Linked DNA regions of Homo sapiens. The protein of the gene in region 4 interacts with the protein of the main gene of each other region in a pairwise test. Each region holds a gene or a part of one and is shown on either strand. Other genes may lie near its edges. The genes, in order: TFRC, SLC13A3, PELI2 and RMDN3.

What was found.
Region 1: the proteins of RMDN3 (region 4) and TFRC interact in binary tests that used the Homo sapiens proteins (3 or more experiments, as listed by UniProt).
Region 2: the proteins of RMDN3 (region 4) and SLC13A3 interact in binary tests that used the Homo sapiens proteins (3 or more experiments, as listed by UniProt).
Region 3: the proteins of RMDN3 (region 4) and PELI2 interact in binary tests that used the Homo sapiens proteins (3 or more experiments, as listed by UniProt).

The regions. Positions count from the first base shown.
Region 1 is NC_000003.12:196,058,073-196,065,096, reverse strand, and holds part of TFRC (transferrin receptor protein 1), read left to right. Parts: intron 1-668; coding exon 669-788; intron 789-2,157; coding exon 2,158-2,243; intron 2,244-2,451; coding exon 2,452-2,515; intron 2,516-4,849; coding exon 4,850-4,917; intron 4,918-6,464; coding exon 6,465-6,523; intron 6,524-6,731; coding exon 6,732-6,813; intron 6,814-7,024. UniProt on the Homo sapiens protein: Cellular uptake of iron occurs via receptor-mediated endocytosis of ligand-occupied transferrin receptor into specialized endosomes. Endosomal acidification leads to iron release.
Region 2 is NC_000020.11:46,585,457-46,592,480, reverse strand, and holds part of SLC13A3 (Na(+)/dicarboxylate cotransporter 3), read left to right. Parts: coding exon 1-77; intron 78-3,225; coding exon 3,226-3,321; intron 3,322-4,317; coding exon 4,318-4,422; intron 4,423-7,024. UniProt on the Homo sapiens protein: High-affinity sodium-dicarboxylate cotransporter that accepts a range of substrates with 4-6 carbon atoms, such as the citric acid cycle intermediates succinate and alpha-ketoglutarate (2-oxoglutarate), as well as other compounds including N-acetyl-L-aspartate.
Region 3 is NC_000014.9:56,289,407-56,296,430, forward strand, and holds part of PELI2 (E3 ubiquitin-protein ligase pellino homolog 2), read left to right. Parts: intron 1-861; coding exon 862-1,050; intron 1,051-3,312; coding exon of another isoform or gene 3,313-3,360; exon of another isoform or gene 3,361-3,949; intron 3,950-7,024. UniProt on the Homo sapiens protein: E3 ubiquitin ligase catalyzing the covalent attachment of ubiquitin moieties onto substrate proteins. Involved in the TLR and IL-1 signaling pathways via interaction with the complex containing IRAK kinases and TRAF6.
Region 4 is NC_000015.10:40,752,237-40,759,781, reverse strand, and holds the start of RMDN3 (regulator of microtubule dynamics protein 3), read left to right. Parts: upstream 1-4,527; 5' UTR 4,528-4,699; intron 4,700-4,991; 5' UTR 4,992-4,998; coding exon 4,999-5,185; intron 5,186-7,545.

The DNA.
Region 1 (7,024 bases), on a different chromosome or scaffold from region 4:
GAGACAGGGTTTCTCCATGTTGGTCAGGCTCCATGAGGTCAGAGCTCCTGACCTCAGGTGATCTGCCTCCCTCAGCCTCCCAAAGTGCTGGGATTACAGGCATGAGCCACCGCGCCCAGCCTATGTGTCAGTTTTATTGGGAGGTAATAAGGCCCTAGGAAATTCTTGTTAAAAATTGACCATTATGACTAGAAAATCTATTCTAAGTTATTGACTAGACCAGTGATAAGCAAATTTCTTAAGGGGGCAGATAATAAACCTTTTGCCAGGCTATACAGTCTCTCTTTTAGCTGTTCAACTCTGTGGGAGCAAGAAAACAGGCACAGACTGTGCGTAGTGAATGGGCATGCGGGCTGTAGTTTGCCAGTCCCTGGAGTTAACTTTAAATGCAATCAAACAGCCAACACTTACTAAGAAATAAGTCCTTGGACTTAAGTAGTCAGTAAATTTAATTAGTAGTGTAGGAAAAAAGTAGCTCTACTAGTAAGGTAAAATTAATATTCTCATGTGAATTTTTAATTCCCAGAGTTTTTAGTCAGATTTGAAGTAAGGCTCTTTTATCCTTAATACATATACTGTGCTTTTACCTTTCTACTGATGTGCTAATTCTAGAAAAGTTTAGAAGCTGATTATATAAGTTCTTTCTTCCTCTTTTTTCTTTTTTAAAGATCACTATGTTGTAGTTGGGGCCCAGAGAGATGCATGGGGCCCTGGAGCTGCAAAATCCGGTGTAGGCACAGCTCTCCTATTGAAACTTGCCCAGATGTTCTCAGATATGGTCTTAAAAGGTAGAGTACAAATTTTGATTCTTTTGAATATTGGTGCACTGCATACAGTTCTAGATGTTATACTGTGCTTTGCTCACTTTGCCTGCATTCCTGTGGTTCTCATGCTAGACTCTAGTTCTTAAATACAAGGCAGATTGTCTTTTGTTGTAGCTGCCTTTTCCTTTGAAACAGCTTTCCATAAAGTGTCTTAACTGTGCTAGAAATCACCAGTTTCTTTGAGACAGTGGAGTTACTGAGCCCTAGTGCTTAGTGTGGTGGATCCAGAGTGATAAGGTGGATCATAGTCCCTAAGCAATCTATTTGAAAGCAGTAGCATACCTCTCTACTCATGTACTGAGGCCTAACAGCTATTGAAATTTTGTTCTGTTTATTCATTTATTCATTTTTTGAGACAGAGTTTCACTCTGTTGCCCAGGCTGGAGTGCAGTGGTGTGATCTCACTTAGCTCACTGCAACCTCTGCCTCCCGACTTCAAGCAATTCTCCTGCCTCAGCCTCCTGAGTAGCTGGGATTACAGGCACCCACAACCACACCCGGCCAATTTTTGTATTTTTACTAGAGACAGGGTTTCGCCATGTTGGCCAGGCTAGTCTCCTGACCTCAAGTGATTCACCCGCCTCAGCCTCCCAAAATGCTGCTAGTGAGCCACCGTGCCCTGCCTCTTTTGTTTATTTTTGAGCCTTTCTGTCCTACTTTCCACTCTTTCACACTCCTACCCACCCACACATTCAAAATCACGTCACATTCTTGAATCTTTGGGTCTTAGGGCAAACTGCAATGCTTAACTTTAATACAGAGTACATTAATGGAGAAAAAGATACAGTGAGGGAAGTGGGAGGGATGGAGGGCAGTGTGATACATGTAACCTCAAAAGGTGCTGTCACAAATATAGTTTCTCTGCAAACTCTTCTTGTAACTTAAATTTGTGAATTTTTATTTTATTTTAGAATTATTTTTTTAAAAATCCAATGTTTGGATTTACCTCTGAAGATTTTTCTCAAGATGTGCATCATCATGCTTACACTGTTTTCAATGATCTCTGGGTCCAGAAGTTAAGGAACTCCAAGAATGAAATTGTGAAAGGGTGACTACTGGCCCCTGCTATGTACTCAAAATCTTATTTGCAGATCTCCTATCTTGCTCTTTGTAGGTTACTTTAAAAAAAATTATTCCTATTCTTTTATTCTTTTACCTGGGGTCTCAAAAAAAGATTTTGTTAGTTTTTTTTTTCTTTTTTGGCTCAGAAAAAAAAGATTTTGGAATCTGCTATCTTGGAATTAGACCTTCTGATTCATCTTAAGTGGGATACCTTCCATCCTTGTCTGTGTATAACCTTTCCTCAGGTAAAGCTAACTTTTTTCTCTTTCAGATGGGTTTCAGCCCAGCAGAAGCATTATCTTTGCCAGTTGGAGTGCTGGAGACTTTGGATCGGTTGGTGCCACTGAATGGCTAGAGGTATTCTTTATCATCCCTTCCCATATTGGACACGAGCTTGTGGGCTTAGGCTGTTGTCCAGAAGTGATGTTTTTATAGGTTTGATTTTACCACTTTTGCCTTTGCGTTTAGTCTCAGTAGAGTCCAGAATTGAAAATGAATCCCTAATGCTACTGTATGTGATAAATAAACAGATTTATACTTATTAGTGTTTTCCCTTCTCTTCTAGGGATACCTTTCGTCCCTGCATTTAAAGGCTTTCACTTATATTAATCTGGATAAAGCGGTTCTTGGTAAGTATCCCTTTCATTAGCTGTGTATGAATTCAGGTAAACTTTTTTGAGATGGAGTTTTGCTCTTGTCGCCCAGGCTGGAGTGCAATGGCACGATCTCGGCTCACTGCAACCTCTGTCTCCCAGATTCAAGCGATTCTCCTGCCTTAGCCTCCTGAGTAGCTGGGATTACAGGTGCTCACTACCACACCCAGCTAATTTTTTGTATTTTTAGTAGAGACAGGGCTTCACTATGTTGGCCAGGATGGTCTCGAACTCCTGACCTCAGGCGATCTGCCTGCCTCGGCCTGGGATTACAGATGTGGGCCACTGTGCCTGGCCAGATAAACTACTTTGAAGTGGAAGAAAGCTTTTTTTTTTTTTTGAGACAGGGTCTCACTGTATTGCCCAGGCTAGAGTGCAGTGGCACAATCTTGGCTCACTGCAGCCTTGACCTCCTGGGCTCAGGTGATCCTCCCACTTCAGCCACCTGGCTAATTTTTTTTGTAGAGATGGGGTTTTGCCATGTTGCCCAGGCTGGTGTCAAACTCCTGAGTTCAAGCATTCTATGTCAGCTGCCCAAAATGCTGCGGTTACAGGCATGAGCCATTGCCCTCAGCCTGTATCTTAACCTTCCTTTAAATAGTCTGTCAAGTTACACAGTGAGCACAATTGCTTGTCTAGAACAGTGGGTAGTTCTCAGTGTGGCCCCCAGATGAGTAGCATTAGGAACTGTTACGAATGCAAACTGTCATGTCTACCCCAGACCTTTGAGTCAGAAATGGGAGTGTTGGTCTAAAAACTGGGCTTTTTGGGCTGGGCGCAGTGGTGCACGCCTGTAATCCCAGCACTTGGGAGGCCAAGGCAGGCGGATCACCTGAGGTCAGGAGTTCGAGACCAGCCTGGCCAACATGGTGAAACCCCGTCTCTACTAAAAATACCAAAATTAGCCGGGTGTGGTGGCGAGTACCTGTAATCCCAGCTACTCAGGAGGCTGAGGTAGGAGAATCACTTGAACCCGGGAGGCAGAGGTTGCAGTGAGCCAAGATGGCGCCATTGCCCTCCAGCCTGGGCGACAGAGCGAGACTCCATCTCAAAAAAACAAACAAAAAAACTGGGCTTTTTTTTTGGCAACCCTTGGGGAATAAAAACCTATTATTTTCTTAAGGACAAAGTATCCTGAAGCAAAAAAACCCAAACAAAGAAACAAAAAACTTTAACAAGCACTACAGGTAATTCTGATGGACTAAAGTTTTAGGACCATAAGTCTGGACTATATTGAGGTGAGAAGAAACTAAACTATGCCATATAGAATGGTACTTAGAGAGTAATTCACATCCTGTTACGTTGTGGCATCACTGATAGAAATATTGGATAATGAAACTTCTAGAAGAGTTTGAATGTTCACTGGCAGCAGAAAATTGACAAAAGGGTTTGAATGTTATTTAAAGTGCAGCTGTACATTCAACAGGAATGGGGTAAAAAAGAAAGTGCAGATGTAGCTGATGAGCTGAGAATAGTGAAATGTCTACATGGGGGAAAAAAGGAAAGAGTTACAATTAAACCTCTCTAGGTTAGTTATTTCCCTGTTGTATGTTTGCCGCAGAATGTGCTGAGTATAGCAAGCATACTATGTATAGCTCTAACCTGGGTGAACCAGAAAGTTAAACATGAAATTGCTAATGGGGGAGGCTGCACATGTGTGGGGGCAGTGGATTTATGGGACCTCTAGGTACCTTTCTCTTAATTTTGCTGCTGAACCTAAAACTGGTCTGATTTTTTTTTTTTTTTTTTTTTTTTTTTTTGAGATGGAGTCTCGCTTTGTCACCCAGGCTGGAGTGCAGTGGCGCCATCCCAGCTCACTGCAAGCTCCGCCTCCCGGGTTCATGCCATTCTCCTGCCTCAGCCTCCCGAGTAGCTGGGACTACAGGTGCCCGCCACCACACCCGGCTAATTTTTTGTATTTTTAGTAGAGACGGGGTTTCACTGTGCCAGCCAAGATGGTCTCGATCTCCTGACCTTGTGATCCACCCGTCTGGGCCTCCCAAAGTCCTGGGATTACAGGCGTGAGCCACCGTGCCCGGCCTAACTGCTCTGATATTTTTAAAAAAGGTGACTTGGATTAAAGTATGCAAACTCAAGGAGTAGTACGAGCCCACTTGAGTGAAGTTAGCTTAGTTGCTAAAGAGCTTGATACCAAAATTACTTTTGTTTACTTGATGAATGGGATAGTTGTTGCACAGGGCCACTGATCTAGATTACTGTCTTATTTGTCAAGTACTTATAGTTGTAGAAGTAGCAGTGTGAAAATTATCGGAATGGAGAAGGGGCAATGATAAAACAATTTATTTTCAGGTACCAGCAACTTCAAGGTTTCTGCCAGCCCACTGTTGTATACGCTTATTGAGAAAACAATGCAAAATGTGAGTATATACCTCATTACAAAAATGTATGACTTAATTTTTGTTGAATCAACCTGAGATAAAAAACACTGATATGTAAACCGTAGTCAGTAACAAAAAATAGGAATTGAGAATAAATTTTATAGCAGCGTTATTTAAGGGATACTTGCCTATTGAACCATATGAGATGAGGGCTCCAATCTTAAAGAATATGTTGTTTATTTAGGAATATATAACAAAATGCCATGAGGCCTAAGCTGTAGTGCAGGGGCCCACAGGGGATTGTCTATAGAGTCACAATGCTAAGGAAGGCTTAAATCAACTTGAACTATACTTTGAGAAGGCCGGAGGAAATATTCATTGAATAAACAATTACCATAGTTTTGAATGAGGGAGAGCATGTGAAAGAAAATATTTGCCTATGTGGGGTGGGGGGAGGGGAGAGGGATAGCATTGGGAGATATACCTAACGCTAGATGACGAGTTAGTGGGTGCAGTGCACCAGCATGGCACATGTATACATATGTAACTAACCTGCACAATGTGCACATGTACCCTAAAATTTAAAGTATAATTAAAAAAAAAATAAATAAATAAATAAAAAAGAAAATATTTGCCTAATGGGATTAGAGGCTGTATATTGGAGTGAGTAAAGTTAGAAACAGGTCAGATAGCAGACATTGGCCTTGATCCAAGAGATACTAGGGATTATAGGATCTCAAGCAAGGTGATCATGAATTTGCCAGTTAGGTTGGTGGCATAAGATGCACTAGAAGGAAGAAACCAGAAACAAGATAGGCATAGTGTGAAGCCCAGAGAGGGCTTTTACAATTGTGGGTAAGCCACCATGGTTTTGTTTGTTTGTTTGTTTGTTTTTGAGATGGAGTCTTCCTCTGTCTTCCTCCAGCACTCAGGCTGGAGTGCAATGGTGCGATCTTGGCTCACTGCAGCCTCCACCTCCTGGGTTCAAGCGATTCTCCTGCCTCAGCCTCCTGAGGAGCTGGGACTACAGGTGCACACCACCACACCTGGCTAATTTTTGTATTTTTAGTAGAGACGGGGTTTCACCATGTTGGCCAGGATGGTCTCAATCCCTTGACCTCATGATCTCTTGACCTTGGCCTCCCAAAATGCTGGGATTACAGGTGTGAGCCACCGCGCCCAGCTTTTATTCATTTTTTTTTCCTTTTTTTTTTTTAAGAGATAAAGTCTTGCTGTGTTGCCCAGGCTAGTCTCAAACTTCTGGGCTCAAGTGATCCTCCCAGCTCGGCCTCCCAAAGTGTTGGGATTGCAGTTGTGAACTACCCCACCCGGCCTAGGCCCACTTTTAAAATGTTAATTAAGAAGAAAACATTTTTTCCTCACCATAACTAAAGGAACTGACAACATGAGCCTAGTTAGTAATAACTTAAAGTTGAGATTGTTTTAACTATCATAAATAATTTCTTTTCAAGAAGATATAATACAAGTTTTTTATTTAAAAATTGTTATAGAGTAACATGTTAGTGACTAGCCTGAATAAATAAGTTCCAAAAGGTTAGTTTTAATGATAATTTCTTATCTTACAGGTGAAGCATCCGGTTACTGGGCAATTTCTATATCAGGACAGCAACTGGGCCAGCAAAGTGTAAGTTGAGAAAAGTGAATGAACAAACTAATAGAAAAGCAGAGATTCTACCTACTACATTAGGTAGAATCTAAATCTGTCCTTGCATTGAACTTACTTACACCTAAAGATATTCAGCTAAAGAATTTATTTTGGATGGGGGGACTAGCACGATAGAACAGTCTATTCTTTAAAACACTTTCTAAAGACACATTCTTTGTCTTTGCAGTGAGAAACTCACTTTAGACAATGCTGCTTTCCCTTTCCTTGCATATTCTGGAATCCCAGCAGTTTCTTTCTGTTTTTGCGAGGTAAGTCTGTTCATTTAAATGACAAATGGAGAGAGGCTCTCTAAAAGGAAGTGATCTGTATTTGGGAATAGGGCATTGCAATGGGAATGCCTGTGCTATAGTCAACTATGTACATATTCAGAGGAGTAAAGGAAAACAAGTTTTTAAGGACAAATGACGAGGATTACAAAATTACTTTGAGGTAATTATTCTTGGCTACCAAGATCAATAA
Region 2 (7,024 bases), on a different chromosome or scaffold from region 4:
GCCTTCCCTCTTATGCTGTTGTTCCTGTTGGCAGGCTGGCTCTGGATCTCCTTCCTGTACGGGGGACTGAGCTTCAGGTACCTCTCATTTTCTTTTTGGCAATAGAGTGGGGAAGCAGGGAATGGCGTTTCTAACCTCAGTATCTGCCTATGAAAACTGAGGATGATTGTTATTTCATGTTGTATTCTCATTTCTTTCTTTTATGTATGTATGTATGTAGGTATGTATATATGTATGTATGTATGTATGTATGTATGCATTTAGTTTTACAGACAGGGTCTTGCTCTGCTGCCCAGGCTGGAGTGCAGTGGTGCGATCATAGCACATTGCAGCCTCAATCTCCCAGGTTCAGTGTTCCTCTGGCCTCAGCCTCCCAAGTAGCTGAGACTACAGGCAAGTGCCACTGTGCCTGGTTAAATTTTTTTTTTTAATTTTTTGTAGAGACAGAGTCTCACTATATTGCCCAGGCTTGTCTCAAACTTCTGGCCTCAAGTGATCCTTCTTGTCTTGGCCTCTCAAAGCTCTGGGGTTATAGGTGTGAGCCACCGTGCTAGCCATATCCTCATTTCTTGACCTCCCAGGGATGTGAGGATTAAGTGAGAGGTGTGACCTGCCTGCCACACACAGACCCTCTGTTGATGTCACATATTATTCATAATTATTAATAGTATTGTCTTTAAATAAGGTAAACACTCTTGACCAGAGAAGAGGGGAGTGCACGATTTCCCATTTTATGGGGCCCTGATACAGAAGATAATTTGGGGTGGCATGAGGACAAAATACTAAATAACACCAAATCATATTATGGGAAATATGTCTTTATCAACTCTCATCACTCAGTCTACTTACGTTGAGGAGAAAGTCTCAGTTGGGTGCTAAAGAAACCTTAATATCTAACATTTCCAAATCAACCTCTAAACGAAGAAAGAGCAAGCTTCAGACCCAGAGACTTGAGCCAGAAATGATAACTAGCCAAAATATAATACTGGCACTTTGTTTTCCTATATTTATTTTGCTTACTTCAATTACTTTTTAATATGGCTACCTTAATTTGGATAGGCAATACATACATATGCTTCTCAAAAATCAAAACAGCGCTAAGAGGTATGCAGTGAGAACCCCTCTTCCCAACCATGGGCCTCTTCTGCCACGATATCCTCCCAAACAAGCATCCACTTTTATTGGTTTCTTGTGTAACCTTCCAGAGTTTTCTTAAGCAAATATGAGCAGACATAGATATCTTTTTCTAGTGACTGGCCTCCGTGACAGATTTTTGTTTGTTTGTTTATTTATTTATTTATTTATTTATTTATTTAGACAAAGTCTCATTCTGTCACCCAGGCTGGAGTGCAGTGGCACCATGTCGGAGTGCAACCTCCACCTCCCAGGTTCAGGCCATTCTCCTGCCTCAGCCTCCAGAGTAGCTGGGACTACAGGCTCTTGCCACCTTGCCCAGCTAATTTTTTGTGCCTTTTTTTTTTTTTGGTAGAGAGAGGGGTTTACTCTGTTGGCCAGGCTGGTCTCAAACCTCAAGTGATCCACCCACCTCGGCCCCCCAAACAGCTGGGATTACAGGCATGAGCCACCCAAGCCCAGCTGTTTTTTAATTTTTATTTTATTATTTTTTTCTCTTTTACCTTGCAGCTGTAGCTCAAAGGAAGCAAGCATTTTTATAAGATACATTTCCAGAAGTGGGATTTCTGGATCAGAGAATAAACACATTTTTATTTTAATAGATATTATCAAATCATTCTTCATAAAAATCGTACATGTTTCCTCTCCCATGAACAATGTATGAGAGTGTCTGCTTCCTTGCAGCAAAGTGGATTTTTGCCAATCTGATAAGAGAAAAATAACTTGTGTTTATTTTATGAACAGTAATTTTGGGCAACTTTTCATAGGTTTGGAAGCATATGAAAAGTTTGTTCATAGGTATTTTCTTTCCTGTGAATTGTGAAACTGTGTGTTCATATTTTTATACATTTTTTTCAAATGGGTTTTTGGTCTTGTTCTTACTAGTTTCTGGTATGCTTTATATTTTAGAAAGATGAGTGCTTATTCTACAATAGAAGCTACATTTTTTTTCCTGATTTGTCTTTTGGCTTTGCTTATGGTGCTTTTCTCCCTGCAGAATTGTTTTAATTTTTTTTTCAATCTTTTCTCATATGGTTTCTGAAATTTCAGTTACAGTTTAGAAAGGTTTTCCTAATACAGGACTTATAAAAGAATAATCATATGTTTTCTTCTAGTATTATTATTTTTTTTTACATTTAAACCTCTAATCTATTTGGAGTTCATCCTTATGGTACAGTGTGAAGTTTGGATTCAACTTCACTTTTTTTTGTCCCAAATGGTCACCCAGTGTCCTAACACCATTTATGGACACACAACATTTTACTATTTTGATGAAGTCAAATTTATCTATCTTTGATGGCTTGTGTTTTTGACGTAATATTGAAGAAACTGTTGCCTATTCCAAGGGCATGAAAATTTACCACTGCCCTTTCTTCTGAGAGGTTTATGGTTTTAACTCTAACCATATTATTCCAAGGCACATGAAAATTTACCCCTGCCTTTTCTTCTGAGAGTGTTATGGCTTTAGCTCTAACATTTAGGTCTTCAATCCATTTTGGGTTTAATTTTGTATTTGGTGTGAGGTAGGGGTCCAGATTCATTCTTTTCCACATGGCTGTCCAGTTTTCCTAGCACCATTTGTTGAAAGGCTATTCCTTCCCCCACTATTCAGTCTTGGTACGCCTGTCAAAAATCAACTGGCCATAGATGGATGGGTTTATTTCTGGGCTCTCAACTCTGTTCCATTGATCTATATGTCTGATACCATTTACTGAATAGCCCATCTTTTCCACACCAATCTGAGATAGCAATTTTATTATAGACTAAATTCCCATTTGTGATTGAGTCTGTGTCTAGACTTTCTGTTTTGTTCCATTGATTCCTGTGTTTATTCATGTGCCTGTTTGACCCACTCATGGATTTTAAGCCTGGAAGTCATATCATCAGATTCACATTTTCAAAGATCAACCAGGCTATACGTGGGGAGAACAACTGTAGCAAAGGAAGACAGTTGCAGGGAGACAAGCTATCAGGCAGTTGCAGCCTCCCGGACAGAGAGGATGTGGCTTGGTCAGGTGGTGGTGCTTGTTGTAGGTGAGAAGTTAGTTATACCTGCAGTGGCCACTCCTAATCTCCCACTTTCTGTTTCAGGGGCTGGAGGAAGAATAAATCTGAGATAAGAACCAATGCAGAAGATAGGGCTCGAGCTGTAATTCGGGAAGAATACCAGAACCTGGGGCCCATCAAGTATGTGGGGGCCCTTGGGTTAAGGAAAGAGCTGAGTATTAAACGCTCAGGAGAGCTTCCTCCTGGCCTGGCCTTGGGCCCATGGGGGCTGAGCTCCAGGGGAATTCCAGGACCCGTGGCGTGGGAGCCTAGAGATGGAGGATGGGAGGTGGTTTACACAGTCAACCTCTTGCCGTGGTGCTGGGGTAGAAACCTGAGGACCAAAAAGCCCCTCAGAGTGTACTTACAGTGGGATCTGCTACCTTCCACCCAAGGCACCGTTTCCCTCCCGGTACGCAGAATACCTGACACTATCTCAGGTGACTTCCGGGACCTTGTTTAATGCACATTTCCATATGGTGAAAATAACGGGTTCAGTAGGCCTGTGTTCAAGGACCAGCTGTGCCACTCATGTCCTGTGTGGCTTTGGTCATGGCACTAACCCTCTCTGGGCCCTGCTCTCCAGTCTGTGAAATGGGTACATTGGGTAACTGTCTCCTCCAACTCTTGGGGATCCTCTCTTTCCACCTTCATCCACCCTCTCTCCAGGTCTGTCCCCTCTCTGTGTCTTCTCCTTTCGGTGTAGACAGACTGTGTGTTTTTCTGTCTCTCTCTCTCTCTGTATGAATGCTCCTCTTTCTCTTTGCCTACTGCATTTCTGTCTGTTTCTCTTCCTCTCTGCTTTTCGGACTCTGTCTCTGTTTCTCACTTTCTTGATTTTCCGTAGGACCCTGGTAAACTCCTGGTGATAATGAAACACGCGATTTCGGGGAGGGGGTGGCTTGAGGCTCAGGAAGGATCCTGAGGGATCGTGGAAGTCCTAGGACAGGAATCATTTACAGTCCATTGGCACCCCTCCCCTCACTCTGGGCACTCCCTGGGGAGTGGATGACTTCAGCTTTCTCAGAGGCAGAGCCCGGGCCCAGTCACTCCCAGTGGGCAGCTGCCTGAGCCTGTGCCTGCTGCGGTCTGCCTGAAACCCGGGGTCACCATCATGCCTGCATGTCTGTGCCACAGGTTTGCCGAACAGGCTGTTTTCATCCTTTTCTGCATGTTTGCCATCCTCCTCTTCACCCGGGACCCGAAGTTCATCCCTGGCTGGGCCAGCCTCTTCAATCCTGGGTGAGACTCTGGGGACCCACAGGGAGGAGTCCAACAGGGAGGATTCTGGGCTGGGCCACCTGGAGCTGGAGAGGCGGCAGTGCAGCTGGGGAGACACGCATCCAAGTTTCCATCTTTTGTCCCATATGATTATTAATAGGTCCCTCTTTCACTCTCAAAAGAGTTTAGGTTTGGGTGATAAAATATGACTTCTCATGTGTTGGGAGCTCTGGATTTGGAGTCAGACTAAACTGGGTTAGAATTCTAGCTCTGCCACTTACGAGCTGTGTGACTGAGCAAATCGTTCATTCATTCAATCAACATTGATTGAGAACCTATTATGTGCTAAGCTGGATGCTGGATGCTGGGACACAGACAAAAGCAAGTAGTTAGACAACAAAACAACTGCATTGCAATGAGTGCTATGAAGGAAAGACTGAGAGGGTTATGCTATAAAATAATAGAGCAGGGGCATTGACTTTGGACAGTTCTGGGAAGAGCCAAAGCTTAGGAAGACTGCAGATGAAAGCAGTGGAGATGCCCTGGGAATGTCTACTGAAGCCTGAGTCAGAACAAACGTAGCATGTTTGAGAAAATGAGAAAAGCCCAGTGGGAGCGAGGCCTGGTGGGAAGGAAGGAAAGCGGGTGAGGAAAGGTAGGGGAGGGCCAGATCAGAGTGTCTTTTCGGGCATGTTATGCATTTTGGTTTGTTTTTTTTCTGTGAGCAGTGGGCAGCCATTGGAGGGTTGTAAGGTACTCAACCTCTCTGTGCCTCAGTTTCCTAATCTGTAAAATGATATTATACTAGTACGTTTTTCATTGACTTGTTGTAAAGGTAAATGAGTTAATACATGTCAAGTGATTAAAATGGCTCATAAAAAGAACTCAATAGTTGTTAGCTATATTCATTAGGAAATGGGTAGTGGGGGCAAAAATATAGACGAGGAGAATAGTTAGGAGCTATAACATCATCTAGATGGCCCGTGTCTTTTTGGGCCAAATCTGGCCCGCCATTTGATTTTGAATGATTTTTACATTTTTTAAATGGCTGCGGAAAAATCAAAAGACAACGTCTTGTAATACACGAAAATTATATGAAATTCAAATTTCAGTGTCTGCAAATAAAGTTTTATTGACACACAGCCACACCTATTCAATTACATATTGTCTATGGCTGCTTTCATACTCCAATGTCAAATGTGAGTCCAGACAAACACCATGTGGCCTGCAAAGCCAAAATACTTACTGTGTGGCTTTTTACAGGAGACATTTGCTGACCCCTGGTCTGGGGGATGGCTTGAGTGAGGGTGGTAGCAATGGCAATGTAGCAGTCAAGATATCATTCAAAGTTAAATGTGGGACTTGTGCTGGGTTGGATTGGGGGGTGTGAATGAAAGGAGTACCTGCATGGATGGTGGTTAATTGGAGAAGAATATTTTTTAGGGGGCTGGGAATGGCTTATTCATAATTCTATTTTGGACTTGGTTTAGACTTGTCAAGCTCAATAGGCAGTTAGATATGCAAGACTGGAGCTTAGAGGAGATGTTTAGGTTGCAGACATAAATCTGGGAGTCATTGTATAAATTTGGGAGTTAAATCCGTAGGAATCAATGGGCTCAGCTATGGAAAGTGTTTAAGTAGAGTATAGACCATGAGGAACCCCAGCACTTGGGAGCTGGGGAAAGGAAAATGAATTTACCAGAGAAACAGAGAGATGGTGAGTGAGGTAGAAGGAAAACTTAGAGCTATGGACCAGCAAAAGCCAAGAGAGGGGAGTGTTTTAAGAAGCGTGAGTGGGCACTGTGTCAAATTCTGGTGTGAGTGGGAACATGATTAAATAGAGATGTATCTGCTGGATTTGGTGAAATCTGATTATTTCAGTTAGCCCCATCCAAGAGAGATATAATGTGAGCCACATATGTATTTTAAATTTTTTGGTAGCTATATTAAAAAAGTGAAAAACAGATGAAACTAATATGAATAATATATTTTATGTATAAATTATTAGTGAGATATTTTGCATTCTTTTTTTCATGTGAAATCATCAAAATCTGGTGTGTGCTTTACATTTAAAGCACATGTCAGTTTGGTCTTGCCACATTTCAAGTGCCCACTAGCCCACATGTGGCTTGTGGCTACCATACTGGGCAGTGCACAATCCAGATATCTCACCTTCTGGGCCTCAACCTCTTCCCTGGTAAAATGGGTGACATAAATTCTGATCTCCTGAAGGTTGTTATAAGCAAGAAACAATATAATTTCATGAAGCCATGAAGCTCTTGTTGCTCTTACCATTTTTTTATTTTTCTAAAATGTAGATGCTTTATTTTTTTCAGATGCAAAATGGGCATTATAAGCATTTCAACAATACAGAAAATGTGAAGATCAGCTAAATCTCAGTCTCTAATTCTGATATACATCTTTCCTGACTTTTAAACAATGCCTATCTGAGAACTGTTCTACATTGTGATCACGCTGTTATCGGACTGCATACATTTGTCAAGACTTGTTAAACTATACCCTTAAAATGGGTGCATTTTATTGCATGTTAATTATACCTCAATGAAACATATGCCAATTGGCTTTTAGAACCCTATTAAAAGAAGATTTTTTTAACAGAAAT
Region 3 (7,024 bases), on a different chromosome or scaffold from region 4:
CAACTTCCAGCCAGAGAAGAGGGTGGCAGAAGCACTGTTTCTTCCTTGTCTCTTCTTAGAGCACAGACACCTTTCTTGGAAGCCTCCAAGAAGATATCATGTGTCATCAGTCAGAGCCCAGTCATGTGCTGTGCCCACCTGTAAACCAGCTATTGGGAAGAGGGCTGGGAGTGTCATGTTGGGTTAATCAGGATTCCCCACCACCCCCCAACCCCCGCCCCAGCCACATGAACAGTAGCTGAGCTCTGTCACCAAGAAAGCTGAAGGGAAGAGCTGTGGCACAAGCACCCAAGAGTGTCTGTCCTGTCGTCATGTCAAGCTACATGCGCCATCTACCTTTGAGAATTTAAACGGTGATTATTATGAAAACATAATGACCCCGACTTGTTGGCTTAACATTTTTGGAATTTTCTAGCTTTAATAAAAGGTCTTTCTTTATGACTGTCCTTTCTCTTCTCTATCCTGACAGTGAGAACATAGAAAGTACTTTTAGATAACAGGATAGGAGCATGGCATAAGTATAACTGAAAAGAGAAAACACACCAGATTCCTGGAATCTCATGGGGTTGTGGGGAAGGTAAAAAGAATCTTAGAGGGAGAAGCCCAGGCCTCGATTTTTTGCAAGTTCTTGAGAACTATGATGTGTGTCCAGTGATAAGTCATTCATCCATTCAGCACTTCTTTTATATTGTCGAAAGGATGGCATATGTTATCCTTGTGATTATTAGCTTTAAATAGAAAATGAAAATTCATCACCTTCCTCCCCTCTGCCTCTATGCAATGTATTAAAGAAATTCCAGAATCCTTTCCATTTCAACATCATCTTAACCTACTTTTTCTGTTCTGCTGTGTTCTCTCCAGGAAAAGGCAGCAAAGTGGAAAAACCCCGACGGCCACATGGATGGGCTCACTACTAATGGCGTCCTGGTGATGCATCCACGAGGGGGCTTCACCGAGGAGTCCCAGCCCGGGGTCTGGCGCGAGATCTCTGTCTGTGGAGATGTGTACACCTTGCGAGAAACCAGGTCGGCCCAGCAACGAGGAAAGCTGGTGAGTGTGCTTCACTCTGCAAGTGTGAAGTACGAAACTACTCAAGCCTAACTCGAAGGCTATCATTTTCCTCCCCTGATGTTCAGAACCTTTGTGCAGGTCCAAGCGCCATGTACTGTAACTCAGGAGAAGCAGAATTCCACAAGCCCCTGAAATCAAGAGGGAAATGGCCTTATCTCCTTCAGGGGTTCAACTTTTCCCATAGTGGGAGTAAATTGTGTTTTGCTCCTTACCACCTGAAGAGCATTATCTTTTATTATATACCTCACCACAAAAATCTACTTAAATTCACTTTAAGGAGAAGAAACTTATTTTTAGTGTAAAACTTTATTGATTTGGAAAACGTTTGAGCAGTCCAAAAACAATTAGTAAAAATTATGCATTAAGGAATTATTTACTAGACTTTCTGGAAGTAAAAAATAAGTCAGCTGGTTTTCCCTTTGAATTCCTATATATTAAGGCAGAATTCTCTATACTGTCCACCAAAATCATAGTTACAACTGTTTACTTGAAATGATTTATATACTGCATTGACCTGGCATGTTAATATTTTCCTATAAATATCACCACTTATCCCCATGCCCTAAAGCAGTTTTTTTAAACCCATTCTTTCTTGGAGAATAATTATAATACCTTAAATATAGAACTTTGGGTTTCTGATCTTGCCATAGCCATGTAGCACAGCCACTGATTTTTAGTAAGCTGTCCATTCCTGTACTTTTCTTAATTTGCTAGGTAGAAGCTAGAACGAGAGAGAACAAATGTCTTTTTCTAGAAGCTAGAAAAGAAGGAGTTCTTCAAAACTCCCACAGAATAAAATGTATACAGAATAGAGGATTTGACCTAGCACTTGTCAGAGAGAAAGATCATCACCAAAAATGTCTAAGATGGAAAAAGAAGTTGGGGGCTGTTTCACTGACCTCATTTGCTGTTCTCTACTGGATGTTTGTGTTTAGGGAATGGTTATTTTTATTTCTATTTTACACCATTTTTCAGCTTCAGGCACAGCGTATGCGTCTTACAGTGCACCATGGCTGAATAAATATGAGAAGCATTTTCTAAAAAAAAAGCAAATTCAATAAATTTTGTATGAATGTTTTCAAGAAATTGTAAACAAAGGAGGAAATGTGAAAGCAGTTTTTCTAAATAATCTTTTGTTTCTGATCACTGGATAGTTTTATACAAAACTGACCTAGATTGGCCAAACTGGTTATTCATCATTATAACAGCAAGAGTAAGAAGTCAGTAAATGGTTGCTGGGTGCAGACTCTGCGTTAACATTTCCGACATGAGCTCACTTCATCTGCACAGCAGCCCTCTTAGGGAAGTAGAGTCATCCCCATTTCATGGATGAGGAAGATGTGGCGTGAAGTTAAAGATTGCCCAGTGTCACAGAGTTAGCAGGTGGCAGCCAGTGGGATTCAAACTCAGGTCTCCCTGATGGAGAGCCTGGACACCTAATACTACTCAGTACCATGTTGTGGGGAGCCAGGGATGGTTTACACCTGAGCATTTGCCTCCCTGGGTGAGTATAAAGCATACGCTGGAGTCCGTGGGGAGCGCCTTTGTCCAGGAGGGCATATCACAGGATGAGTTTCTCGTCCACTCTGGTTATTGTGTAATGACCCTTCTCAGGCTGCTATGTGTGCTGGAGAATTTTACAGTGCGACTGAAAAGAACGAACTCCAAAAATGGCTTGTATTAATGAGTTGTATTAAATATACAGGCTATTTTTGAAGTTAGTCCCTATAAGCGACACTGAGAACTATGTAAAATTGTGCTGTCCTATTTGATAGCATCCGATTAACCTGGCCAGTTACAAAGGCTTCTATCAGCCTGATCTTGGGCTTATGGGACACTGAACGGATACATTCTTCCTGCAATCTCCTCTTGTTAACCTCTGGAGAACAGTTTTTGTCTGTCTTCGAGGAAAGCTTACTGACTCTTTGAACTTCTGTTTCAATTCATGACTCATTGGTCCTGTACATGTTGCTGGTAGCATTTGATATAAATTATGTTTATCTGGAGGTTAGATTTTGGAGACAGTCTCTGGCAGTACTTGTCATTTGCAGTCTAATACAGAAATATGAGAAATAAAGTGAGCTGCTAAAAGTCTAAAATATTTGTTAAAACAATAGTAGTCACATTGTGGAGCTAGTGCTGGTGGAAGATTATGTATTAATATCATACTGAGCATTTGATATGAATCAATATACTAATGTATGTGTAACAAGAAATCACCGTTGTTTTTCATTATTACAGCAAATGATGGAACCTCAGAACTGTGTACTAATCAACAAAATTAATTAAATATGGGGGAAATGTCTTTTCAGGCCTTTAACTCCCTGAATAAATAGGTGAATGGAGTTTGAATTGTGCCCTCCTTTTTTAGCTAGTTAATGATAACATATGGTAACATTTATAATATTACTCCAGGAGGGCCTTGAGTATTTAATTAAATTATATATGAAGTATTTTATTAAACTAAACTGGCTTTGTATAAAATTAAGTAAATTCAGTTAAGTTGATTGCATACCTAATTTTAGGTGAAATTATAAAAATAACCATAGCGTAGCTATGGTCAGGCTCTAGCAGGTGCATTACATTAATTGTCTTTCCAGTGTTGCTTAAAATAACCCGTGAAGTCAGTGTTGTTATTGTGTCCGTCTACAGATGAGGAAACCTGGGCTTTAAAAGGTTAAGTCACTTGCTAATAAGAAGTGGTGGATGGGGGGTTGAATTCACTACCCTGTGCTTAGATAGTTGCTATGTAGGGGCCATTAGTTGCCATGGTAGAGGCCAAATGTCTCTTGCTTCCACAATACTGTCAATTCCTGTGCCTGCTCATAGCTTTTCTTTTGTGGTAGAATTTAAAAAATAAAATCTGAATTCATGCCTACTAATGATTGCTAAATCAGGCCACCAGGTTCAAGTCCTGGTTTCACCACTTAGTTCTGTGGTATTGAATTGACGACGTAACCTCTCTGTGCCTGGCTTCCACATCTCCCAAACTGGAATAATATTAATACATGTCTAATAGGACTGTTGTGAGAACTAAATTCAGTAGCTGGAAAGGATTGGAACAGTGCTGGACACAGTAATGCCCCATGACTGGCTGGTTGTTATTACTAAGCAGGGGTTGCAAACTGGGGATGTGGCAGAAAACACCAAGTCCACGCTCTGCCCTCTAATTGCATGGTCTGGAGGAGGTCACAGACTAGGCAGCAGATCAGCAGATACTGTGTGATGAGCACAGTCATGAGAAGGTACCGAAGGTACTTTCCCTCCACAGGACACCTACCCCAGATGTGGGAGTCAAGGGTATGTGGAAAATAAAAAACCATACACCCCAGATTTATAATAAGACTTTGTTGTTTACCAAGAACTGCCCTGCAGGAGGAAAGGGGGGTTGTTCCACAGCCAGAGGCTAGGCCACCACCATACCTCAGCTTCTTACCACATCAGGGTGATCCTTTAGACACAGTTTTATCCTGCAATGAGGCCTCCTCTGAGAATTGCCTGTGGTCAGCAAGGTCAGGAGCCTCACGTCACCAGTTAGAGGAGAGGAGACCATGGGATGCTCGGTATGGTGGTGGGGCGGGGAAGGAGCATCAGCAAACTTCAGGCTGTCTGAAAGGAGTCACAGTGTATGTCCTGTACAGTATTAAGATTTATCATTTGTTGGGACCTTAACTTTTTCTAAAAACTAATACTTGGGAAGGGCTGATTTCTTCATGACAAGGAAAATGTCCAGGGCAAAGTGACATCCAGGTGAGACCTGGATGACAAGTAGGAGTTTGCCAACCAGGGCTCAGCTGGAGCAGGGTGTACTGGAGTGGAGTATTCTAGGCAGAGGTTGCTCTTGCACCTGCCTGTGGGCAGTCCGAGGTAGTGCGCTCATGGACTCCAGCTCCTTGCAGCTCATCGCAGGACAGTCCTGGTTTCCAGTTAGGAAGGGAAGAGCTACAGCAGGAGAAGTCGAGTGACTGCATTGGGAGTGACCTTTTAAGTGTGTTAAGAAGCTTGGGCTGTACCCCAAGGGCAGCAGAAAGCCGCCAAAGTCCTTTGAACCAAAGATTGACAAAATTTCTGGTGCTTCCCATACCTCTCTCTTTCCCTTACATGGTTCTTTTCCTCCACCCCAGCTCCTGGCTCTGTCCTCAGTCCTCTCTGCCCTCCCTGGGACCCTGCCTGGGCAGTGGCATCCATTCCCACAGCTTCACCTAGGTGCGGATAACATCCCAGATATGTTTCTTCGAGCCTGATCTGTCTCCAACGCTGCATCACACGTGCCTTGTATGCATTACCACCACCGATACTCTGCACACCCTCACATTCAGCACACCCAAAACTGAACTGGCCTGGCTCTTGCTGTTGAACTTATTTAGTTCTCACAACAATCCTATAAGACATGTATTGGCATTATTCCAGCTTAATGGATGTGGAAGCCAGGCCCAGAGAGGTTAAGTCGTTGACTCAAGACCACAGAGCTACTAAGTGGTGAAATCAGGATTTACTCCCTCATCTGCCATTTCTCCTGTGTTTCTGTCTGTGGAAAGCACTGTTCTACCCAGACAACCAGGCACGTAAGAGGCTCTTGCTCAGATCAAGAGCTGAGTGCCATCGAGTCTAATTTCTTTCTCTCTAGTCCCTGTGCCTCTGTCTCTTGCCACTGAGACTGTCTTTGTTGAGGTGTACTCACCCTCTCTACCCAGAGAGAGCACCAGTTGCCTCCTTCACAGCTCATCTTTACCCCTCCAACCCACCCTCCAAAGTTCTAGAAGTGACCTTTTTGAAAGGTCAATCAGTTCTTTTATAGTTACCTAAACCCCCTACCAACTCCCTCTGGGCATGGATGCCAGCCTCCCTCTCCCGCCTGGGTCTCTCGTCCCCCCCCACCCAGTGCCCTGAACTGCGTCCATCCTTGTTCAGCCTGGCTGCACAGCCTCATCAAACTCCCTGTTGCTCCCTTGGTGCATATGCCATTTGGCCTCTCCTCCTTCTCCCTGCTGTGCCTTCCTGCTATCCTCCCTACTGAGGCCTGACATCTTTCTCAAATCTCTGTTAAAGAAAAACCTTTTAGAAACCATTTCTGACCGTCTGTCATCATCAGAGTAATAGTAGCAGGTATTTACAGAGTGTTGACTGCGTACCAGACAGTGTTCTCTAAGAACTCTTTGCATTTACTTATCTAACACAACCACCTTTTCTAAAGTTTAAACAAGGGGAAACTGAGGCACGAGGAGTTTAAGTAATCTGCACAGCGTCATACAGCTAATAAGTGGGAGAGCCAGGGTTCAAACCCAGAGTCCACACTCCTGGCTGCTATAAATTTGTGGCCTTGAACAGTGCTTTACTGGCCTTCATGCACTCTGAGCTCTGGGCATGTCTGCCTTCCACTACTGAAGAGCAAGTCTCAGCAGGATGGGGAAGAGGTTTTATTGGCCTTTGGTACCTCCAAGGCTTAGCATGCATCTGGCATGTGGAGGCAGCGGTCACGTTCTTGCTGACCACGCCTAGCTGCTGCTTGTCAGCTGTTAATCAGTCTTATAAGCACTTAGTGCATAGCACAGGCCTCCTTCTAAAAATGAAGGCTCATGTTGAACTGTTTAGCTTCAAACCTTAAAAATGAATGATGAAAGATAGATTCAAGGTGGAGGAAGCTAAGGGTCACCAGGAGTGCTTTGGACCCTCCAGTAATGACTGCAGGCCCCCCGCAAGATCTTCTGGATTGGCTGTCATCAAGATGAGGATGAGTCTCCACTGGATGGACTGGTAGGACATCTCTCATCCTATGGGATCAGTGAGTCATTGTGTTACTGACTTAAGGAGTTAAAAAGAAAATCTTAGGAGATTTGTGAAGTTCATTAAAATAACCACTACAGTAATTGAACATGTAAAGCTAGGTATACATACTGTGCTCAGGGCTTTGTACATACGGCATATATGTATCATATCCAGTGATCAGATGAGG
Region 4 (7,545 bases):
TGGTGGCGGGTGCCTGTAGTCCCAGCTACTCGGGAGGCTGAGGCAGGAGAATCGCTTGAACCTGGGAGGTGGAGATTTCAGTGAGCCAAGATCAAGCCACTACACTCCAGCCTGGGTGACAGAGCAAGACTCCGTCTGAAAAAAATAAAATAAAAATAGAAAAATTAGCCGGGCATGGTGGCGTGTGCCTGTAGTGCCAACTGTTTGGGAGGCTAAGGCACAAGAATCACTTGAACCCTGGAGGTGGAGGTTGCAGTGAGCCCAGATCACACTGGGCAACAAAGTGAGATTCCATTTCAAAAAAAAAAAAGAATTGAGGTCATGTTGCGGTAACAGTACCAGATCCAACCAAACAAGCACATAAGCAACACCAGGAGTACAGAAGACTAAATTACTTTTTTTCTTTTTTTTAAGAGACAGGGTCTTGCTCTGTCACCCAGGCTGGAGTGCAGTGGTGTGATCAAAGCTCACTGTAACCTTGAGCTCCTGGACTTGAGGCATCCTCCCACCTCACCTCCCACATGCCACCATCCCCAGTTAATTTTTTTTTTTTTAATTTTTTGTAGAGACAGTCTCACTGTGTTGCCCAGGCTGGTGTCCAACTCTTGGCCTCAAACAATCCTCCTGCCTTCGCCTCCCAAAGTACTGGGATTACAGGCATGAGCCACTGTGCCCAGCCTAAGCTACATTTTTTTTTTTAATTGAGACGGAGTCTTGCTCTGTTGCCCAGGCTGGAGTGCAGTAGTGTGATCTCGGCTCACTGCAAGCTCTGCCTCCTGGGTTCACACCATTCTCCTGCCTCAGCCTCCCGAGTAGCTGGGACTACAGGCGCCCGCCACCACGCCCGGCTAATTGTTTTGTATTTTTAGTAGACATGGGGTTTCACTATGTTAGCCAGGATGGTCTCGATCTCCTGACCTCGTGATCCATCCGCCTCGGCCTCCCAAAATGCTGGGATTACAGGCATGAGCCACCGCACCCGGCCATAAGCTACATTTTAAATCTGCAGTGAGATAGTGCTTTACAGGTTAGCAAAAAATAAAATAAATAAATAAATTTAAAATGTTAAAATCTGTAAATATCAAGTGTTGGTGAAGATGTCAACAATCCCACTACTGTTGGGCTTGCAAGTTGGTGTGAATGATACCCTGTGACGCAGCCAAACCTCTCCTAAATAAACCTCAGGAAAACTCACAGCCATCAGGATACATGTACAAGAATGTTCACAGCAGCACTGTAACCAGTAAAAAACTGGAAACAGCCCTTATATCTATCAAAATTAGACTAAAAGTTTTTGAGCTAGGTTGGGTGGTTCACACCTGTAAGTCCCAACACTCGGGGAGGCCAAGGCAGGAGGACTGCTTGAGCCCAGGATTTTGAGACCAGTCTGCGGAACACAGTGAGACTCCCATTTCTACAAAAAAGAAAGTTTCTGGCTGGGCATGGTGGCTCATGCCCGTGATCCCAGTGCTTTGGAACGCCAAGGCAGAAGGATCGCCTGAGCTCAGGAGTTTGAGACCAGTTTGGACAACATAGTGAGACTCTGTCTCTACTGAAAAATTAGCCATGCATGGCAGCACACACCAGCAGTCTCAGCTCCTCGGGAGGCTGAGGTAGGAGGATAGCTTGAGCCCAGGAGTTCAAAGCTACAGTGAGTGGTGATTGTGCCACTGCACTCCAGCCTGAATGGCAGAACAAGACCCTGTCTCAAAAAAAAAAATTATATATATATATTTCTAAAAGGGCTGGGCATGGTGGCTCATGCCTGTAATCCCAGCATTTTAGGAGGCCGAGGCAGGAGGATTGTCCGAGCCCAGGAGTTTAAGACCAGCCTGGGGAATACAGGGAGACCCTGTCTCTACAAAAAAAGTAAAAAATTAGCTGGGCATGGCGGCATGTGCCTGTAGTTCCACCCCCGGCTGAGGTGGGAGGATATTTTGAGCCTGGAAGGCAGAGGTTGCAGTGAGCTGAGATCATGGCACGCCTGGCTAATTTTTTTTTGTATTTTTAGAAGAGACAGGGTTTCCCCATGTTGGCCAGGCTGGTCTCGAACTCCTGACCTCATGATCCACCCACCTCGGCCTCCCAAAGTGCTGGGATTGCAGGCATGAGCCACCGTACCCAGCCAATTTTTGTATTTTTTAGTAGAGATGGGGTTTCACCATATTGGCCAGGCTGGTCTTGAACTCCTGACCTCGTGATCCACCTAACTAGGCCTCCTAAAGTGCTGGGATTACAGGCGGGAGCCACCGTGCCTGGCCTAGAGAAAGAATTATTTTTTAAGGCATCAAGAACCTTAAACATTATACACAAGGGTAAGGCCACCATCCCAAGGCATTTGACTTGTCACCTCTCTTGGAAGAGCCGGGGTAGATGAGGCAGATGTTCTGGGCAGAGGGCAGGACAACAGTTTGGGGTCTGGTCTGCTCTCTTCTCAGGCTGGGCTGTGGAGGGGGTGGGAAGGTGGGCAGTGCATATCTCAGGCAGCCAGGCCTTTATTACATTTGCAAAGCTAGTCTGCAGATGCAGCACAAGATAAAGAGCTCTGTCCAGAGCCACCCACCACACTGCTGATTGCCCTGGCAGACACGTGCCTGCCAGATAACATCTTTAATATCCAGGGGGAAATGAATTCCCCTGCTTGGTCTGCCCATTTGGCCTAGCCTCTCATCACAATCCGTTTATCTCACAGAGCTGCCTCCCCCCCGTAGAGAGGAGAAATTATTGTTCTGCCACTGAGTTTTCTGCCACAGCTGAGAACACACTGTCAAAGTGGCAGGGCGTGCTGTCGGTCACGCCTTCTTTTCTTCCTTCCTCCATTCAGCTTTTATGGATGCTTTTGCATTAGAGCTGTGCCAGGCACAGGGGACCTGGGATGAATCAGGAGTGAACCCCATCCTGGAAGAGTGGGCAGTCCAGTGGTGTAGACAGAGTAGAAAGCAAATAATCACAGAACAGAGTGTAATGGGTCTGGTGCGGTGGCTCACGCCTGTAATCCCAGCACTTTGGGAGACTGAGGCAAGCAGATTACTTGAGGTGAGGAGTTCGAGACCAGCCTGACCAACATGTAGAAATCCGGTATCTACTGAAAATACAAAAAGTAGCCAGGCGTGGGGGTGCAAGCCTGTAATTCCAGCTACTCCGGAGGCTGAGGCAGGAGAATTGCTTGAACCCAGGGGCGGGGGAGGAGGTTGCAGTGAGCCGAGATCGCACCACTGCATTCCAGCATGGGCGAAAAGAGCGAAACTCCGTCTAAAAAAAAAAAAAAAGTATAATGGAGGCAATAGAGCCACAGGAGCAAAGCAGGGTGAAAAGCTTAATTTCACCAAGGTGGTGATCTGGGAAGGTTTCCAGAGGAAATTTTTATTTCCTCCAAAATAAAGTGTATATATATATATATACTTTATATATATATAAATATATTTTTTGTTGTTGTTGTTTTTGTTTATTTGTTTTGAGAGGAGGCCTCACTCTGTTGCCCAAGCTGGAGTACAGTGGCGAGATCTCGGCTCACTGCAACCTCTGCCTCCTGGGTTCAAGCAATTCTCCTGCCTCAGCCTCCCGAGTAGCTGGGATTACAGGCGTGCACCACCATGCCCAGCTAATTTTTGTACTTTTAGTAGAGACGGAGTTTCGCCAGGTTGGCCTGGGTGGCCTCGATATCCTGACTTCTGTTGCCCAGAGTGATCATGGCTCACTGCAGCCTCGACGACCTGGGCTCAAGTGATCCTCCCATCTCAGCCCCCAGAGTATCTGTGACTACAGTCACGTGCCACCACGGCCGGCCTCCTGTATTCTTATATGTATACAATATCTCACAATTAAAGGGTAAATAAATATAAGATCTAGTCAAGGGTATTGGGAGGACTGGCCTAGATATTTCTTTCACTAAACTAAATTTTAACTCTTAAGAAATGTTCACAATAAAATTGTTATCATAGTCCATAAAATCGGTCTTTTTAGTTGCCACAATTATAAGAAGTTGCATACAATTACAAGAGTAAAACAGAATTATAAGACAGCACGTTAGGTTTAAGATTTATGGCCGGGTGCGGCGGCTCACGCACTTTGGGAGCCCGAGGCGGGCGGATCGCACTTTGAGAGACCAGGAGAGCGGGACCCAGTCTCTACAAAATAAAAATAAAAATAAAATGTGGGGAGAGCGTGACGTTTTCCAGGTACAGAGGGGAGGTCCAGGCAGAAGCGCAGGTAGAAAGTGTGAATATGCTGAGCGTATTCCGGGAGCAGCAAGTTAAGCCGGTGTGACCGGAGGGAAATGGAGGCCTGGCTGCCGGACGGTGAGGGTGACTGCGCGAGCGTCCGCCCAAGAAGTCTCCCTGCCTTCCCGCCTTTCCCCTGTCTTGGGCCCCTTCTTGCTTTCCTTTCGCGCTCTGTGCTGACTCCGCCCCTCCGGCGGCGCCCGTGGCCCCGCCCCTGAGGGAAACAGACAAGGGGCGGGGCCGGCGCGGTCATCTCTCTGCGCCTTCCCGCAGGGCGCCGAGCACCTGGCGCCGCCTGCCTGACGTCACGGTCACTGACAGCGTGAGCCCGCGGCGGCTGCTGCCATGGTGGCTGGCGGCCGGGTAAGGGTCTGAGTGGATCTCCTGCCAGGCCAGAGCGCCTTCGGGGGCCGCGGCGGAAGGCCAGGAGTTTGCAGCCAGGGCGCCGGGTTTGTGGTCTGCAGTGTCGTGAGGCTGAGGTGGGGGTTGAAGGCCCAGAAGCCGGACTCTGTGACCCGGGTCGGGGGGTGTACTGGAGGGGCGGCTACGTCCAGGCTGGGTGAGAAGAGAGGCAGTGGGGCCCAGGAGGCTGGAGGAAGCCTTAGGGTTCAGACTGGGGTGCACGTAGTCGAGAGCTCAGGGTTTGGGCAAGGGGATACCTGCCGGGGTTCAGCCTTGAGGGTGGGTTTACCGGGTTCACGAATCTCTCTCTCTCCTTACCCCCGCCCGCCCGCCCGCCTGCCTGCTCCCGGTGACTTCTGCTGGCCGCAGGTGCAGCATGTCTAGACTGGGAGCCCTGGGTGGTGCCCGTGCCGGGCTGGGACTGTTGCTGGGTACCGCCGCCGGCCTTGGATTCCTGTGCCTCCTTTACAGCCAGCGATGGAAACGGACCCAGCGTCATGGCCGCAGCCAGAGCCTGCCCAACTCCCTGGACTATACGCAGACTTCAGATCCCGGACGCCACGGTAGGAGCCCGTCTCCTGAGACCGCGGTCACTGCAGACTAATGGGCCTGAGGTCTGGGCTGCTTTCGGTGGAGACTGTGGGACAGGGTAACGGAGAGAAGTGCTTTAGGGTTTCACTTTTTTGGAAGCTTGTTGAAAAAGCAGTCGTCGGGCTGGGCGCGGTGGCTCACGCCTGTAATCCCAGCACTTTGGGAGGCCGAGGCGGGCGGATCACCTGAGGTCAGGAGTTCAAGACCAGCCTGGCCAACGTTCAACCAGATGTCAACATGGTGAAACCCCATCTCTACTAAAAATACAAAAATTAGCCGGGCGTGGTGGCGCGGCCTGTAGTCCCAGCTACTGGGGAGGCTGAGGCACGAGAATCGCTTGAACCTGGTAGGCGGAGGCCGCAGTGAGCTGAGGTTGCGCCACTGCACTCCAGCCTGGGTGACAGAGTGGGACTCTGTCTCAAAAAAAAAAAAAAAAAAAAAGCAGTCGTGGTTTTCTCTACTCTTTCGCCTGTACTCACAAGAAAGTATATTTCAAAAAGACTGTTTAACTTTCACTTTTAGTTCTGGCCACAATAGTGCTATGTGGGTATTAAAGGCACTTGCTTAGTGTTGGGTGAGGTGTGTAATAAGTAGAGGAAGAGTCCAAAAGAGGGCAAAAAGAATAATCTTGTAGGGATTAAAAGTCTTGAGGCTTATGTATTAAATCATATATTAGAATTTGAAGACAACTTGGCAACTATCAAGACAACTTGGCAACTATCTCATTCAAGTTTTTTTTTCTTTTTATCCCTCCTATGAGGAAACCAAGATTCAAAAAGATGGTATAACTTTCCTGAGGCTGTCACAGATTAAGTGGCAAGGTTGGGCCTGGTCACCTGGTCCAGTGGACTTTCTACGGCATAGGGCTAGGAGCACGCTTAATGCAATTGAAGCTGAATGTGGCTGGCAGCCTGTACAGCTGAAATGAGTAGTTCTTGCAGATTTGTCAATTCATTTGAGCAAAGGATCTAGGGCTGGTTCAAACTACTACCATCTTTGTGCAAGAGGAGTGTTTTTTTTCTTTTCTTTTCTTTTTTCTTTTCTTTTCTTTTTTTTGAGATGGAGTCTCGCTCTGTTGCCCAGGCTGGAGTGCAGTGGCATGATCTTGGCTCACTGCAACCTCCGCCTCCCTGGGTTCAAGTGATTCTCGTGCCTCAGCCTCCCGAGTAGCTGGGATCACAGGTGCGTGCCACCATGCCCAGCTAATTTTTGTATTTTTAGTAAAGATGGGGTTTCCCCATGTTGGCCAGGCTGGTCTCCAACTCCTGGCCTCGGCCTCCTAAAGTGCTGGGATTACAGGCGTGAGCCACCACACCTGGCCAAGAGGAGCGTTTACATTATCTCACTCCCATGCTAATTGGAAATGAGTGTTTTCTCTGATTGCCAATGTTAGATGGTTTGGAAAAGTTAGTTTTGGAGTCTTCAAAGAGCTATCAGCTTAGATTGCAAATGATTGTCAGCATTTTATAATCTTGTGGTAATCTAGTATTGGAGTGTGCTTCCTTCCCTTGTATTTTGTTTGTAATTGCTTCGCAGTAGTGTTTCTTCTGAGATTAGAAGAAAGTGGCCACATTGCCAGGGATCTTTCTTGCACTACATTCTTGAGCATTATTGGATGTATGTTGTGGCCTGGCCTAGTTTTTTACCAGATTTCCTTTAAGAAGGGATTTATGCTTGCCGTATTGTAGGGTCCTGCCTCTCTGGTTTCTTTTTTGTTTTTGCATTTTCCAGTTCAGTTACCATAGGTGGCTGTCACTTTGCTAGCATTTCACTGCTGGAATTTACTCTGAGATCTAGGGTTGGGTCAGCAGGGCTTAGTGACGGTGTCTTTCTGAGGCAGTTTGGATGGGCTTTTTCTGGTGTACCTTTTCTCTTAATAACTGCCCCCTTTCTCCTAGTCCTTCTCTGATATACTAAATGAAGTTCTGGGAGAAACTCCAAGTTTTCCCTACTATTATTTGTGAAGTGAGAGATCAGAATTTGAGGGAGCTCAGTTTTAGTTTTAGTTTTGCTATGTGGTTGGTATTGACTCCTTGGTATTGGGCACTATATGGTGAGGTGAAGGTTTTTGTTTTTTTTTAACTCTAGCAGGACAGCTGTCCTCCTTCAGGTTCCACACTTGGGCAAGCATGTTACATTATCTATCGTGGTGTGCAGCATTCCTGAAGGGCCCTGGTATGGAAGGTTCTTGGAGCAGAGGGCTCTCGTTTAGAGATCCCTGGGTAGTTTCTTGAGACTTGTTACCATGACCTGGCTGTGAACGTGTGCTATCTGAGCGTCACTGGGCCTTCTCTTCCAATGGAAAGCAGGTATTCTTGAATTCTGGGTGTGA